2 separate regions of the Homo sapiens genome follow, and region 1 is linked to region 2. A link means that fine-mapping ties the variant in region 2 to the expression of a gene that starts in the linked region. Tissue or cell type: whole blood. Region 2 holds a variant in brackets; the other region holds the start of a gene. All regions are shown on one strand. Distances are between the middles of the regions.

Region 1 (4,181 bases), 37 kb after region 2:
GAGCCAGCCCGAGGACTGCGCAGACCCTCTCCATGACACTCACACATCCCCGCCTCATTCCCCACACATACACAACACCCACTTCCAGGCTCAGGTCTCTCTGAAAGTCCATCTGCTGAGAAGCCCACTGCCAGGGAGAAGGGCCTTCTGAGAATTGAGGATGGAGAAGAGGAGTTTCCAGGTAACTTTTCCTGAGCCCTCATCCTGGGAGCACTCTTCTGCCTCAGATCTCTGCCCTCACTTCTCTCCAGCCACAATTTTGGAAACACAGTTATGCCCCAGAAGTTGTCCTGGGCTTGGGGTCTAAGTTTATCCTTTTTGCTCTTAGGCTTGTATTTGAGGCTGGAGGAGAGATGGGGGTTCTCAGAGGGCACAGAGATGGGGGAAGGGGGCTTCTTGCCAGGGCCAAGAGAGTGTTTGTGTGGGAGTTACACAGTGGCCTAGTGAGTGAAAGAGGCCCCCCATACCTGATTCATGCCTCAGGGCAGATGGAGGCCTACTGTCCCTGCTATCTCCTCTCAGACATAAACACATCCTGCTACCTACTTCTCAGGCCTGTGGGAGGCACATGGGGACCTAAGCCAGGGAGGCCTGTGCGCATACAGGCCCTAGAGCTGAATGCCCAGACTATGCACATGCATCCACCCACTGTGCTCTCCTCCACTGGTGCGGCACCCACAGGATAAAACCTGAGGACACAGTGTGTGTGTGTCTGTGTGTACACACAAATACACACGCCAGTGTCAGAGGCTTGTCTAGGTGAAAGTGAATGTAGGCTGGGGGTCCCTAGAAATGTCACAACTAACCCTACAGGTGTCCGCTGTCATCTGCAAGGTTGTGCCTGCCACAGGAGACCTGTTTGTACAAATGGTAGCCTGAACAGTGCTCACTGCACACCAAGAGGCTGCATGCCCTGAATTCACACCTTCATTCCTGGTCCTATCTCCCAATAGAATGGACACTGGGCCTTACAATGCACATGCTAAACACCACGGATCTCCATAGGCCCCAGACCCACGTCTAGGAGTTTGCCTAGAGACACAATGTGAACATTGGCGTGTATGCATCGGACAGCCGTTGACATCCAAAAATGGAAAGGTCAGTGTAGCCACTTCTTTCTCACATCCAAAAATCACTTGGGATATAACAGGTGAATGCAGACCCTTTAAATAGTGGATGTACACTCAGATATTTCCGAATTACATAAATAACACTCATAGTAGACACACATTTTGGATACCCAAAAGAATATACACAAGTACTAACTTATAAACACACACGAATACCCCACGAGTATAAAGATACACACACACACACACACACACACACACAGGCAAACAACTTTTGGACACAAACTCATATATTTTTACATCTTTTAAAAATACATATACTGTAATGAACACACTGAGTCCCTTATATAAACACACAGGCCCTAACTTGCAGACCCCCGGAAGGACGCCAGCGTGAACATTCAGAAACAGAGAAAAACACAGACAAACTCACAGATATTTGGACTGATGCAGAAGTGTGTGAACAGATAGGTGAAAAAACATAACAAACACGCCGCAGTTAGACAGTCTCTACGAAAATGCGGCGCGCCCCCTCCTCCTCCAGGGTCACCCTGCGTGGGGACCAAGGCCTGGCCGTGTCCCGGAGTTTGCACATCTGGAGCCCGTATCGCGGTCCTACCTGTCCTGCTGGTCCGAGGAGTCGGATAATTTTTCTCTAAATCCATTTTGATTTTTCAGGACTTGATGGAATGGACAGGGAAAAGTTTCCACTTTTTTGTGCCTTTTTTTTTCTTTTTTTTTTTTTTTTTTTTTTTTTTTTGGTGCCAGGGGCCGCTCACAGGTCGGAATAATTCAAGCCTTCCGCTCCCCCGCCGAGCTGGGGTAGCTGATCACTGAGCTGAAACTAAACGTTTTAGGTGGAAAAAAAGCGTCCGAAGGCACCGTGAAATGATTAAGGAACTAAAGAGCTTCTCGCCATGTGAGATCATGTCCTGTTCTCGCCAACATCACAAGATGTCCCCAGACACGCCGCGCCCCCAGCGCGCCGCCCCACACTGCCGGCCCGGAGCGAGGAAAGGGTAGGCGCTGCGCGGCCGGGCCTGCTCAGCGCGCCAGACGTGGCGGACCCGGCCCGGCCGGAGTAGAGCGGGAAGCCGGGAGAGCAGCAGTGCTGCTGCCGCGCCGCCCCAGACTTTTATAGGGGTTGGGGGGAGGGAAGGAAGGCTTCAGCCTGCGCCGGGCGCTAGCCAGCGCACCTACGGGAAGGGGCAGACCGAAGCGGAGCCCGGGAGCCCGGGTCTTCCAGCCGCACCTTCTATTAAGACATGCGCTTGGGGGTCGCGGCCCTCTGCGCTGTGCGCGGGGCCTGTGACATCTCCATGTGCAAACCCCGCTGCTTAGACGAGCGCAGGCCGGGTTTTTGTTTTTGAAGAAATTAACTGCTCGGCCAAGCAGGTGCTTTTGAAAGGGGTTGCAAAGGCTGGCAGTGTTGCCAGGCACCGAGGCGACGTTCCGGTTTACTCCGATTCACCCCTAGGGCGGCGCCCGACCCCAGGGTTCCCAGCCATCCAACCCCCACCCCAATTTGTTGGGGTCCTGACTATTGCTGGGCCCCTGACCCTAGGGCAGCGCCAGATCCCTAAAGCCCCCAGGTCCCATCCAGTCTTCTAGTCCCAGAACCCCTCCCCACATCAAGTTCCATTCTGGCCCAGAGCATGGAGGTTAAGCTGTGAAATACTGGAGATGAAATCCGGGCTTCCGCTTTGGAGCACCCGGGCAGAGCAGAACATCTCAGTAGTTTCTGGAGATTGGCGGGAGTTCCAGACACCTTACCCCGGCCCATAAGTGGAATCGCATTGCCCTCGAGCCCTGAGACGTTGTGGAGTCCCAGAGCCCCAGGACTTGATTCCAGAGAGGAAATCAGATCCACAGAGACCGAGCAGAGGTGTGGCATGTCCAGCCCTCTCTCTTCGGGCCAGACTCAAGCCTCCCCTCCCTGTTCCCCTCCCCAGCCTTGAGTTAGTTCAGCTGCTGGGCCTAGCCACTGAAAGCCTGTGGGGCCCTGCAGCGGGGTGGTCGCAGGGGAAAGGTTCTCCAGGGCGGGGGAGCGCTCCGTAGGAGGACTCCTGGCCCGCCGGACAATGGCAGTTTTGGAGAGTGAATCGTCCTCAGCAAGAGTGTTGTTTGTTTTTTGGAGGGGGTGGTCACGAGGCTGGGTCGCAACCTAGGGGGAAGAGCCTAGAGCTCGAGGAAAGGGGGGCCCCCGGCGGCAACTGGACATCACATATCCACTGAGCAGATTTCGCCACAATCGGAAATGTGGCTGTGGATTCCCGGGCGGCCCCCCCACCAAGTGGTCTGCGCAGTTCCCCAGCGCCGCCTCCTCCCTGCAGCCTGCGGGCCCGTGTCCCTACCCCGAGATTTGATTTTTGGCCATCTCCGAGTGCTCGACTCTTTCCCTCCGCAGCCCAGCCCCAGCCCAGGCTTCCCGCCCTCCCGCCTCGCCCGCGCCGGGAGGCAGCGCCTGGGAGGAGCGGCCTGTCCGCGCCTGGAGATCAAAAGCCCTCCCGGAATTGACATTTCACCCCGGGCTGGGGGCGGGGGGTGTTGGTGTTTTGTTGTTGTTGTTGTTTCCATTTAGAGGGCTTGTTTTGTTTTTGTTTGTTTTCTGTGAGTTTTCATTTTTCCATGGGATATTCTTTTGTTTCGGGTGTTTTGCGTGTTGTTTTTTCGTGGGATTGATTTTAGCGGGTTTTGCTCTGTAAGTCCTGGTCTTTGGGGTGAGTTTTGATTTTGTGTAATTTTGTACTTTGTCCTTGTAGGCTGTCTTTTTGTGTGTCGTTTGTAAGGCTTTTCCTTCTCCGCGGTGTTTAGATGTGTTTTGATTTGGTGTGAGTGGGTGTCGTCTGTGTGTGTGTTGCCTTAGGGAATTTCGTGTTGTGTGTGTTTTGTTTCCTTCGATTTGAATTTTATTTTTTTGAACTGTACGTTTTGGTGGGGGATCGGGTTATATTTTCATGTGTTGTCTTTAGTTTTTGTGTTTGTGAGATGCGCTGGTGAGAGTTTGCGTGTGTATTTTGGCTTTTGTGGGGCTTTGGGATTAGGGAGGGGACATCAGCCGCTACTCCGTTCCTGCCCGCACCCATGAAGGGCAGAGGATTAGGCCAAGCA
Region 2 (4,181 bases):
GTGCTCTCCAAGGCCCTTCCAGCTCCCATGGGGGAGTCTCGAGGTCCAGGCTGGTGGCCCCAACAACCCCTCAGACGCCCAGCCCTCCCAGGCCCAGGGTGCTACCCTCTGCCCCCACCCTGGAGGCCTCCACCCCCCTGTGCTCCCTGTGCCTCTCTTCAGGGAAAACTGGGGCCTGACCCTTTTCTTCTGCCATGAAGCAGGCTGGGAGACTCAGCTTCCTAAAGGCAAAGGAGGAGGAAAGTGAGTGGCCCTTCATTCTGCAGCCGACACCTGGGGGCACTGTTGTTCAGCCTGGATGCCCCGGGCTCCCGGCTGCAGGCAATCGGCTTCTTCAGTACTATGGAATCGCTCCGTGGCTCCACAGCTCCAAACAGGAAGGTGGTGGTGGGCGAACCAGCCAGTTCCAGCTGCCAACAGGACCGTGGCTAAAGCCTGCTGCCCTCTGCCATGACGGGCCTCACGTCCTCAAACATAGGCCTCTCCGTGGCCATCTACTCAGCATTGACTACAGCCAGGCCCTGGGGCCACGCCCTTGGCAGCTGTCACTTCACTTCATTTTATTCTCACTGTAACCCACAAGGCTTGCGTCAACTCTATTCGCCAGATAACAAAATGGAGGTGCAGAGAGATTAAGTAACTCGCTACAAGAAGTCCTCAAACCATTTCATCCCTGCCCATGAGCCTGTGCCTTTGACTCAACACCTTATTTGGGGCTCTCCAGGGATCAGAGATCTGTGAACTCTCAATCCCACAGGGGCTGCCTATTACTCCTGACTCAGGAATCCTGAGCTTTTCCACATACCCATCCCTTCTGGGAGCTCTGAGAGGGCTCTCCCCACTTCCTGCTTCTGTTTTCTGCCCTCATCCCGGGAGCAGCAGACAGCATCTATGCATCCAGGGAAGGAAAAGGGTCCTAGGAGAGAAAAGACCAGGACCTGCCCATGTCAGAGGGGCCCAGGGCCCCAGCACGGTCTGTGAGCTTCTGAAGCCCCTTCCCTCTGGCCATAGCTCCCGTGGAGGTCTGCTGGGCAGGGCTGAGGGGGCGTCCAGCCTGAAAGAGACAGGGGAAGAGGGGATTTGGGGAGAGAGAGAGATAGCAAGAGAGAAAGGAAATTGAATGAGTGAATGAGTGTGAGAGAAAGAGAAGAAGGAGAGGGAGAGAGAGAGTGTGTGTGTGAGAGAGAGTATGTACGAAAAAGAAAGCTAGTGAGAGCTAGACCGGGAGACAGAAACAGACACAGAGGAAGGTTCAATAAACAGGAAATAAAGCCAAATAACACAGAATGAGATGCACCCCCAAAGACATGGGGAGAGACACAAAAACAGACAGGAGACAGGCATCCCCAAAAAGGAAGTCATAATGGGAGCACCTGGCTAAATGCCCCCCAACAAACCTCCCCATGAGAGTCTCATCAGACTTGGCATCTTCTGGAAAGGACAGGCCACCTCTGAACCCTGGCTGCCCTTCCTGTGCCCTCCTTAGAAGGTAGTCCAGAGCCCAGAAGGCTGGAAACTCACTTGCAACGTACCCCTACTGCCCAAAAAGAAACCTCTGGCCCCCACAGTCCACACTGGCTGGACAGGTCAGCTTTCTAAACTGGTGAAAGGGATTCGCACTCCGCTGACCTCAGTGTGTTCAGGGCCTTTCAAACTCAGGGCCCTGTGAGTTATTGTGAGGGGGACAGGGAGGGGACCTAAGTGGGGAGAGCGGCGGAAGGAGGTCTCACTAGAGATCAAAAGCCCAGGAAGGAACCCAGGGTCTGAGGCTGCCCTTTCACCCATGGCCGCTATTCACAGCCCTGCCTGCTTTGCCAAGTCTCTCCCTGCCACCACCTCCTCTGGGCCTTCCGGAGAGGGAGGTGCTGACTCAGCCTCCATTCCCCTCACCCAGCAGGATTCCTGAGCCATGCCACAGCTTCCTCGACGAAAGCTCTCAGTTCAAACCAACCAAGAGACAAAGCGACATCTCATAACTGGGTGGCACCCCAGCCTGACCCTCAGAGCCATCCCGCAGGCCTCCCAGGCATCCGTGTGAACCGGGGCTGTGCCGAGAGGCTGCGCTGGGGATAGAAATGATTTGTGGCCCCTGCCCTGTCAAGTCCACATGAGTGGCAGCCTCAGGGTCAGGCAGCAGAAGGGAAAGACAAGTGGGTAGATGCACTTGCAGACACAGTACTGGCACAGAAGCATTGGCCACCCAGGCTAGAACAGGCCTGCCTCAAAAGTCACAGAGTCCGAACCAGAATGTCATCCTTGACTCTTCTGCTCCTCATTTGTCCAGCGCCTGCTCACACCTCTGATGATGGAGAGCTCACTACCTTTCTAAGATAAAGCTTCCATTCTTGGCCCAGCCTGGCTGCTTCTGAAAGCCATATGTTGCATTCAGCCATAATCTGCCTCCTGCAGCTTCCTTTAACCAGCCCCAGCTCTTCCTCCAGAGGCCACAGAGATCTTACCTGCTGCTGAAGAACAGTTCATCTGAGACTTGGACATAGTGGCCATATACCCGAGTCTGGTCTTGGAGGCAGGCATCCTAGGAAGAACTCTAGAATCTCTATACTGAAAGGGCCCTT[C/T]GCCAATCCACTGGCCTAACAATATTCTAGTTAGTTTGTTTGTCTTTGCTCCAGAACTCTACTCGGAGCTTTCTATGGAAGCCCAAAATACCAAACAAAAGCACCCTTGACTGAGGATAGTAGAGGTCCCTCCACTCACCCTCGTTACTAATTGTGAACCCTCTAAAGGAATGTGACTGATCCACTCTACCAAGGAGCACTTACTGAGCACCTACTATGTGCCAAGCACTTGTATTAGAGCTGTGTTGTCCAATACAGCAGCCGCTAGTCCTATGTAGCTACTGTGCACTTGAAATGTGGCCAGTACAATCGAGGAGCTAATTTTTTTATTTGATTTGATTTTAATTTTAATTTTAAAATAGAAGCAGTGTAAAATATTTGTCCCACTAAACACAGCTTTATTGTTTTGGTAGGACTACATCTAACTTTAACTGTCAAACGTTTCGCATCCAAATTGAGATGTACTACATGTGTAAAATACACACCAGATTTCAAAAACTTGGCAGCAAAAATAAGAGAAAATATAGCATCAAATTTTTTATATGCTGACATGTTGAAATGATGATATTTGGGGTATACTGGATTAAATAAAATATATTATTAAAATTAATTCCACTTGTTTCTTTTTACTCTTTTTAATGTAGTTACTAGATCATTTAAAATTACACGTGGCTTGCATTCTGCTTCTGTTGGATAGTGCAGGGCTAGTCACTGTCATGTTATCTTTTTACCTGAAACACTCAGCAGAGTGAATGTTTCTTGAGCATCTGAGACACATAGCTCAAAACTATCTCCCTAAATGCTTCTAGACTAAATGTTCGAAAGCCTCCGTCAAAGTCTAAGCCACCCACATCTCTCTACCTCTCTCCCTTTCCAAATCCTGCCGTGCTGGTCCTCTCCCTGCACATGCTCACCAGAGTCCCAGACTTGGCACAATCTCTCTTGCCTTTGATTGGAATGCCCTCTCCTCCCTTTACCCAGCTCTCAAATGCCACCTCCTATGAGGAGCCCCCAAGATCCTTTTGGTCAAAACTGGCCCTCCCTGCCTTACTCTTTCCCCCAGTGTCACCTCACCCACTGCCCTCCTCATCAGAGGAATTTCAGCTTGCCAGTCTTGCTCGCCACCTTACCCTCTGTGGTTGGATCCTATCACCCGTTCACCTCTGCAAGATCTGGGCAGGAGGGTGGCCCCAGGAAATGCCCTCAGAGCAAAACTCAAGTCTAAGCTGGGGATGACTGTGAACTAGGCAGCAGAGTAAGCAACTCCACCTTGCAAAGCCTCAGTCACCTCATCCGAAAAATGGGCAAGGACCCTCAGCTGTCTTCCTCTTAGCTCTCCATTGCCTCTCTTACCCCATGATTCTTCTCTCAGGCTGCTGATGGTACCGCACTGGAGGCCAGAACCCTCACAAATCCATGGTTTGCAGCTGCCATGGGCCAGCCGGCCAGTGTGCCTGAAATATCCCTGTTTCCCCAGTGGCTGCTTCTTACTTTCTCTGCTCTCCTCCAACCTCTGGCCTTCAGGTCTCACTTCTCTCTCCGCATCCAACCTGCTAATCATGCCCTTCTGATTGAAACTCTTCCCCATACTGGCCCCAGGCTCTG

What was found. PIP is the estimated chance that this variant, and not a neighbour inherited with it, causes the effect.
Region 1: it holds the start of PAX5, and the variant in region 2 is fine-mapped to the expression of PAX5 in whole blood (TOPMed, PIP above 0.99).

What each region holds. Positions count from the first base shown.
Region 1 is chr9:37,032,297-37,036,477 of GRCh38, forward strand. It overlaps PAX5 (paired box 5), which reads right to left and starts at 1,972. Exons shown (of 10, transcript NM_016734.3): 1 at 1,690-1,972. The coding sequence starts at 1,735. RefSeq lists silencers at 1,738-1,858, 2,125-2,304, 3,385-3,544, a promoter at 2,118-2,556 and enhancers at 2,635-2,684, 4,078-4,127.
Region 2 is chr9:36,995,738-36,999,918 of GRCh38, forward strand. All of the region lies in intron 5 of PAX5 (paired box 5), which reads right to left. Among named protein-coding and RNA genes, the nearest start is that of PAX5, 36 kb to the right of the region's middle. RefSeq lists enhancers at 354-513, 415-915, 1,417-1,932, 1,933-2,447, 4,105-4,154. The variant C/T (reference allele first, on the strand shown) is at 2,577.